2 linked regions of the Homo sapiens genome follow. The protein of the gene in region 2 purifies or fractionates together with the protein of the main gene of each other region. This does not show direct contact. Each region holds a gene or a part of one and is shown on either strand. Other genes may lie near its edges.

Evidence for each region. The genes of interacting proteins can lie anywhere in the genome.
Region 1: the proteins of OTOA (region 2) and GALNT1 purify together in Homo sapiens (affinity purification with mass spectrometry; one large-scale study listed by BioGRID and IntAct). This does not show direct contact.

Annotation. Positions count from the first base shown.
Region 1 is NC_000018.10:35,686,240-35,689,739, forward strand, and holds part of GALNT1 (polypeptide N-acetylgalactosaminyltransferase 1), read left to right. Parts: exon of another isoform or gene 1-132; intron 133-440; exon of another isoform or gene 441-692; intron 693-776; coding exon 777-947; intron 948-2,933; coding exon 2,934-3,051; intron 3,052-3,500. UniProt on the Homo sapiens protein: Catalyzes the initial reaction in O-linked oligosaccharide biosynthesis, the transfer of an N-acetyl-D-galactosamine residue to a serine or threonine residue on the protein receptor.
Region 2 is NC_000016.10:21,662,612-21,666,767, forward strand, and holds the start of OTOA (otoancorin isoform 1 precursor), read left to right. Parts: upstream 1-1,356; 5' UTR 1,357-1,621; intron 1,622-4,156. UniProt on the Homo sapiens protein: May act as an adhesion molecule.

The DNA.
Region 1 (3,500 bases), on a different chromosome or scaffold from region 2:
ATAGGAAAGTCAATATCATAAGAGTATCAATTCTACCCAAATTCATATATAAATTCAGTGCATTTCCAATTGAAATCTCCACAGAATTTTCTTTGAGAGACTGTACAGGCCGATTCTAGCATTGATACGGAACTGTAAAAAGAAAAAAAATAGTTGGGATGCTTCTGAAGAAGAATCAGATCTAAGGGGGCTTGCCTTACTAGGCGTCAAGACTTATTTTAAAGCTGTGTTAATTATGGCAGTGGTATATTGATGCAGGAATTCACAAATAGACTAGTGAAACAGGGTAGGGTCTAGAAACCAGCTCATTTTTGTATGTAATCTTGATTTATGACAGAGCAGTCACTCATAGTTACAGCAGAAGAAAAAGGGACCATTACATAAATAGTGGTGGAACAACTGGTTATCCATAGAAGAAATAAATGAAGTTGGATACTTACTGTATATCATAGTTAAAATCAGTCCCTTGAAGATTAAAGTCTTAAATATAAAAAACAAAAAAAAAATTTTTTTAATTAGTTGAGTGTGGTGTTATGTGATCCCAGCCGTGGTCCCAGCTACTCAGGAAGCTGAGGTGGGAAGATCACTTGAGGAGGTCGAGGCTGCAGTGGCCCCTGATTGCACTACTGCATTCCAGCCTGGGTGGTGACAGAGTAGTGATACCCTGTTTCAAGGGAAAAAATAAAAAATAAAAACACTTACTATACAATTGTTCTGTAGTTGGCATTAAACAGGAATGTTTTGAAAGATTTCTTAACTTGCTTTTATGACATCAGGAGAACAGTGGTGTGTCCCATCATCGATGTGATCAGTGATGATACTTTTGAGTACATGGCAGGCTCTGATATGACCTATGGTGGGTTCAACTGGAAGCTCAATTTTCGCTGGTATCCTGTTCCCCAAAGAGAAATGGACAGAAGGAAAGGTGATCGGACTCTTCCTGTCAGGTAATTAATTTGTCAGACATTTTGCCTAAAGTGTTATTGGCAGAAGGTTGTGGAGCTTTGGGAATCATATCAAATGGATAAGTGTATTTTGAGAAACGTGAAGCATTCGTATACCTTATGGTAGTTAACAGCCATCTTTCACATATGTGAGTGTTTTAAAGAAGGATTTCTCCTCTAATAAAATTAGAAATTTTTGCTTATTCTATAAATCTAGTGCACATGAGAAATGATGACATGCGTGTTTTTTCATTCCTTTATGAACATTTTGCAAATGCGTCAGATCTGTACTTTAATTCAGTTATTAAGGATAATAATACTTAGCTTAATTAATTGTGTCAGTATGTGAAGATACTACCTAAAACTGGGTCCTTGCATTAAAATGTACAATTTTAAATTCAGACTTGTACCATCTGGATGACAGTTATTGACTGGTAAAGTTAGAAAAGCTTGTGTAAAACATAAAAATAGCTAGAATTGACACAAAATATAAAAAAATTCATTAATCCATTTATTCTCTGATTTTTTTTCTCTACTTGGTCATATATAGATTTTTTTTTCAGGATGGAATAAAAATCTTCATGCTCTTTTTAGAACATGAAATTGAGACCTTTGAGCTCTTCTGAGCCATCCTAGAATTTAGCCCCATTGTACCGACCTGCTACTTCTGTATTAAGAGTTCCTTCAGAACCAGGCTTCAGCTTTTCTGTTTTTGGGCCTCCTGCGTCTGCCTTCCCTTGAATTCAAGTTCAGTTCTGGCAACACTGAAGAGATTTTCCACTGACTGTGTGCTTTTTTCCTTAGCCTGAGTTCTTAGTAGTAGTAGTGCAAGGGACTTTTCTTCTCTTTAGCTGTTAGTGCAATTCACTATCTAAATCAGGGGTTCCTAAACATTTCAAAAATGACAAAATTTTTTGAAAATCTGGTGAAAGCTATGGGTCTTCTCTAATGGAGAAAAATGCACATGTACATGCAGAAGATTTAGCACACAAAAAACTCAGGTCAAGAAAACCCTGTATTAAATGATAATTCTGAATTTTGGCTGTTTCTTTTAAATCCTTTTCTCATTCTTTTTTTCTTCTAAAATCAAAATAAGTCCAAACCTTTTTTGGAAACAACTGTTTCCTCTGGAAAGGCAATGAGTACATTTTAGGGTTCATCTTAAAATATAATCTTCGTGGTATCTTTGGTCCCTGTAACTTATTTTTTTCTCCTGGTTGGAGTTTACTTTTTCTCCATACTTGTTCTTTATAAAAATCAAATGGGCTGATATTCATTTATTTAAATCTTCCTTCATTTCTTAATAATTTCTCTGCTTAATTTCACATGTTCCCACTCCCTTTGCATACCTGAGCCCTATTTTGATGAATTAGACTCCTCTTTTGCAGAAAATATACCACACAGTCAGGAAGGAACATATTGATTTTATTCTATATTTTGTCTCCTCTCCTTAAAGATTTCTAGTGGGTATTAGGAAAAGACCTCACTGTTTCCATCCAGTTTATCTTATGTATTTATACTATTTGCCACCCTTTAGAACATGGCATGGTAACTCTAACCTCAATCTACTTGGTTAATATAGTCAACTGCCTTGAAGTTGCTAGGATCTGTGGAGTGGGTGCACAGTCAGATGGAGAGGATTGTGAGGAACAGCTTTAATTTAAGGAGTTTGAGATCTAAACTCAGTTAGGACCTGAGGGCCAAGAAAGATAGAAAGTACTCTTAGGACTGTGACAGAGAGGGATGTCTGGGCAGAAGCATGACACAGCAAGTCTAGCAGTCAGCATGACCATGGTGCAGGTCATGTGTGAAGACCAAATAACACAGCATAAAACACAGAAAGCCCCTGGGGCGTATGAAAGTTTATGAAGAGTGTGAGAATAAGTACTTACTCAGTAGTTATAAATAGTTATGAAACAGCTTTTAAAAACAAAAACTGATTGATTGTAAATTTTAAATTGCTAATGGTATAGCATTATTGAATTTCAGGACACCTACCATGGCAGGAGGCCTTTTTTCAATAGACAGAGATTACTTTCAGGAAATTGGAACATATGATGCTGGAATGGATATTTGGGGAGGAGAAAACCTAGAAATTTCCTTTAGGGTAAGTTCCCTTAAAAAAATTTAATCTTTTATTTAACTTCAAGTATAGATGTGCATTGATTATTCATGTATCTCTACATAAAAAATAAAAATTGAATTTAATACAAGTTTAATGTAACTTCAGAGCCTTCAGTCCATAAAAAGGACTGATAGTAAGGGTTCATTATAAACTATTGAAGCAAATAATTTAGTTACCTTTGAAGTTCAGCTATAAAACTTACACAAGATTCCCTAGTTGTTTTTAATTTTTATTATTTTCAAGGAAGTAATTTAAGCTCTAAAAGCTAATATATAGTTTGGATATGCTACTTTGCTGCTTTACTCTCAAAAACATAAATTTCACATTTAAACATAAATTTCACATTTTGTAATATGCTTTTTATTTTAGTGTGAAAATTTTTTTTATATAAAACCTAGTCACTTTACCAGCTTTATATTTTTCAATAAAAA
Region 2 (4,156 bases):
TTCACCATGTTGGCCAGGCTGGTCTCAAACTCTTGACCTCAAGTGATCAGCCTGCCTTGGCCTCCCAAAGTGCTGGGATTACAGGTGTGAGGCTCCACACCCAGCCCCTAGCTTCTAGGTTCAATAAAAGTTCAAATACATCTATTTCTTACCATTGGCTTTTTTGTTTTGGATATAAAATTATTTCCTTGTGCTAATTATGTGGTCTTTGTTAAGAACAATTTTAATGACTGTGTAATCCACAGCGTTTATGTATCCATTTATTTAAGCATTTCATTATTGGTGGACATTTAGGATGAATTTTTTTCTACCACTCTGTGTATGTATACATCTATTATAGGTCATACTATTATTTTTATTATGGAAAATTCCAAGTACATAAAAAAGAAAGGTAATAATGAATCCTCCCCAACCAGCCTCAGCAATTATCAACACATGGCCCACCTTGTTTCATCCCTACTCCCACTACTCCTTGGTTCCACTATTGCCAAGCAAATCCCAGATGTCTCATTTCAGTTTTGTAAATATATAACTGTAAAAGATAACCACTCTGAAAAGATAGCCACATTACAATTATTCATTAAGAAACCCGGCAGGGTGCGATGGCTCACGCCTGTAATCCCAGCACTTTGGGAGGCCGAGGCCGGCGGATCACCTGAGGTCAGGAGTTTGAGACCAGCCTAGCCAACATGGAGAAACCCGGCCTCTGCTAAAAATACAAAAAAATAAGCGGGGCGTAGTGATGGGCGCTTGTAATCCTCTTTACTTGGGAGGCTGAAGCGGGAGAATCGCTTGAACCTGGGGGCGGAGGTTCCAGTGAGCCGAGATCGCGCCATTGCACTCCAGCCTGGGCGACAGAGCGAGACTGTCTCAAAAAAAAAGAAAAAAGAAATGAAAGAAACCCAGCCATTAAATATCCAGCGACCACATTGCTCCAATTTTCTTATAATTTTTTTTTTTTTTTTTTTTTTTTTGAGACGGAGTCTTGCTCTGTCGCCCAGGCTGGAGTGCAATGGCACGATCTCGGCTCACTGCAACCTCCCCCTCCCGGGTTCAAGCGATTCTCCTGCCTCAGCCTCCCAAGTAGTTGGGATTACAGGCGCCCGCCACCGCGCCTGGCTAATCTTTGTATTTTTAGTAGAGCCGGGGTTTCGCCCTGTTGGCGAGGCTAGTCTCGAACTCCTGGCCTCAAGTGATCCGCCCGCCTTGGCTTCCCAAAAGTGCTGGGATTACAGGCGTGAGCCACCGTGCCCGTCCTATAACTTCTTTTAACGGTTTGAATTCAGATCTAAATAAAGGTCCCATGTAGCGATTGGTGGATAGCTCTCTAGTGCTCCCCATCCTCGCTTCCTAGCTGCCGCCCCGAAGAGTGGCTGGGGAGCAGGCATTTGTGCGTCTTGCAAGCTTCGACAGATAGGAAGTCCCAGGCGGGGACTGTGACCCCCGCCGCTGCCCTGGCTGAGTTCCCACCTGGGCCGCTGCAGGGAGGAGGTCGCAGAGCTGCCGGCTGGCGCCGCCCCGCCGCTCTCCTGCCTGCCCGCTCCCCGCATGAGCCCCGCGGCCCCGCCCTGCGCCACCCGCCCGCCCGTGGGACTCAGTGCGGCCAAGCCGGGCTCCGCAGGTGAGGCGCGCGCGGGGGCCTGGGCGGAGGACTCACGGGGCAAAGCGCTGGGGGAGCGGGTGGGCGCCCACCGCTGGGCCTCCCTAGGGAAGGGGTGCAGGTGATGGATGGCGTGGGGGACAGACCGAGAGAAAGAGGGTGGGCAAAGTGTGGGTGCAGCGGCTTTAAGGGCTCCTGGGATTGGAGGGCACTTGGAGGGGGGGGACGATGAAACTTCGAGAAAAGGGATCCAAAACTACTTAGTAATATAATAACAGCGATGACAACTGTTGCAATAACTATCACAATGATTATTTGTTATAATAATATAGCAGCAGTAAAAACAATAGCATTAGTAATAATAGCTACGATTCATTGCATTCTTATATGTGCCAGTGCTGGGCTTAGTTCTTTATGTATTTTATGTATAAAGTAATGCCTACCTCATAACAGTTGTGTGGAAGAAATGGAAAAATGCAGGTAAAGGCCGGGGCTCACACCTGTAATCCCAGCACTTTGGGAGGCTGAGGCAGGAGAATCACTTGAGGCCAGGAGTTCGAGACCAGCCTGGCCAAAGTGGTGAAATTCCATCTCTACTAAAAATACAAATATTAGCCAGGTGTGGTGGCGGGCGCCTGTAATCTCAGCTACTCCGGAGGCTGAGGCAGGAGAATCGCATCAATCCGGCAGGTGGAGGTTGCAGTGAGCCGAGATCAGGCCACTGCCCTCCATTCTGGGCGACACAGGGAGACTCTGTCTCATGAATGAATAAATAAATAAATAAATAAATAAATAAATAAATAAACAAATAAAGTTGATAGTTTTTTGCCAGGGAGGTATGAGTGCCATGCCTACTATGCAGAGGAGGAAATGCAAGCCTATAGAGGTTAAGGAATTTGCCCAATAGCACACAGCTGGTTAAGGTTTGGTTCAGGTTAAAGCTGGGGTCTTATCCCTGGGGTGGCACCTGCCACCTGGAGTTTTAGGTTCAGGGCTGCTGAGCTGACACTGGAGAGCAAAGCCAGTGAGCGTTGGAATCATTTAGCTCTGGGTTTGCCACCTGGCTGTGCATGCATAGCTGTGTGACCTTGGGCAGGTCACTTGACCTCTCAGAACCCATTTGCTCATCTGTGAAGTAGAGATAATGGTAATGCTTGCCTCAAAGATTCTACAAGAATTAAGCGAGACAATGTATGTTAGAGAGGCGTGTACTTAGTTCTGTCTCATTAAATGACTGCTGGGATTAAGGTTACTAGGGAGCCCCACAGCCCTGCATCATAACCCCCTCCCTGCCATTCGCTTGCTGTGTGATCGTTCATGTGCACTGAACTCATCTGTGAAACTGAGTACGGTAACCCTTCAAGGCTGGTGGAAAGAGTAAATGGCAGGGAGGAGGGTTTGGTGTGATGCCCGGCTCATAGAGGATGCTCAGTGAGACCAGTTTCTTCCTTTCTTTCCTTCTTTTCCTCATTGAATCCAAAGCCATTTGTTCTCCGGAGACTTAGGAGAGAAGAAGGGGAATAGCTGTGCCTAAAATCTCACTATTAGTGGCAGGGCTGGGACAGGAACTCAAGTCTGGGCATCTCTAGTCCACCAAGCTCCCATCCCCTTGACTGCTTGAATTTTTTTTTTTTCCAGCCAGGGTTTTGCTCTGTCACCCAGGCTGGAATGTAGTGACATGTGATCGCGGCTCACTGTGGCCTCGACCTCCCAGGCTCAGGCAATTCTCCTGCCTCAACCTCCTGAGTAGCTAGGGCTACAAGCATGCACCCAGCTAATTTTTAAATTATTTGTAGAAATGGAGTCTCCCTATGTTGCCCAGGCTGGTTTTGAACTTCTGGACTCAAGTGATCCTCCCACCTTGGCCTCCCAAAGTGCTGGGGTTACAGGAGTGAGCCACAAAGCCTGGGCCTACTGGACTTCTACAACCACTGTGAGCTGGGCCATTCCAACACCAAGCATTTGTAATCAGGCTGGTATTCTATAAGCCAGACACATTTACCTATTTTGGATTAATAGTCATGAAATGGCATTTTTTTTTTTTTTTTTTGGTGGAAAATCTCCCAGCTAGTGTCAGTATGCCTAGAGTTATGTGTTCATGACCCAGAGCTTAAATGGAGCAGCCTTGCAGACAGTGAAACTCCATGTAATTGTGAATTAATGGTTTGTGTCTGGGCTGGGGTGTCCCAGCAGGAGGGGAACCTCCTAGCATCTTTGCAAATTTCACAGAAGATGAAGTGACTCTGATCCATGGGTTGACCAACTCCTCCGGGTTTGCCTGTGACTTTCTGGTTTCAAAATGGAAAGTTTTGAGTCCTGGGAAACCTTTTGGTCCCGGGCAACTGGGAAAGTTGATCACCTTGCACATCCAAACATTCATAGTTTCTCAGGAAATTGTCTTCATTTCAGGTTTGTGGTTATTGTTGCTGTTTTCGAGTAGTTTTCACCACAGGGATCCTTGCCTGACTGATTTCCTCCAGTCTGCAGTGGGGGAATCTTTCAGTGGGGAAGGGGTATGGCCCATAGAGAAAGCTATCGACCTCCAAATCATCATCG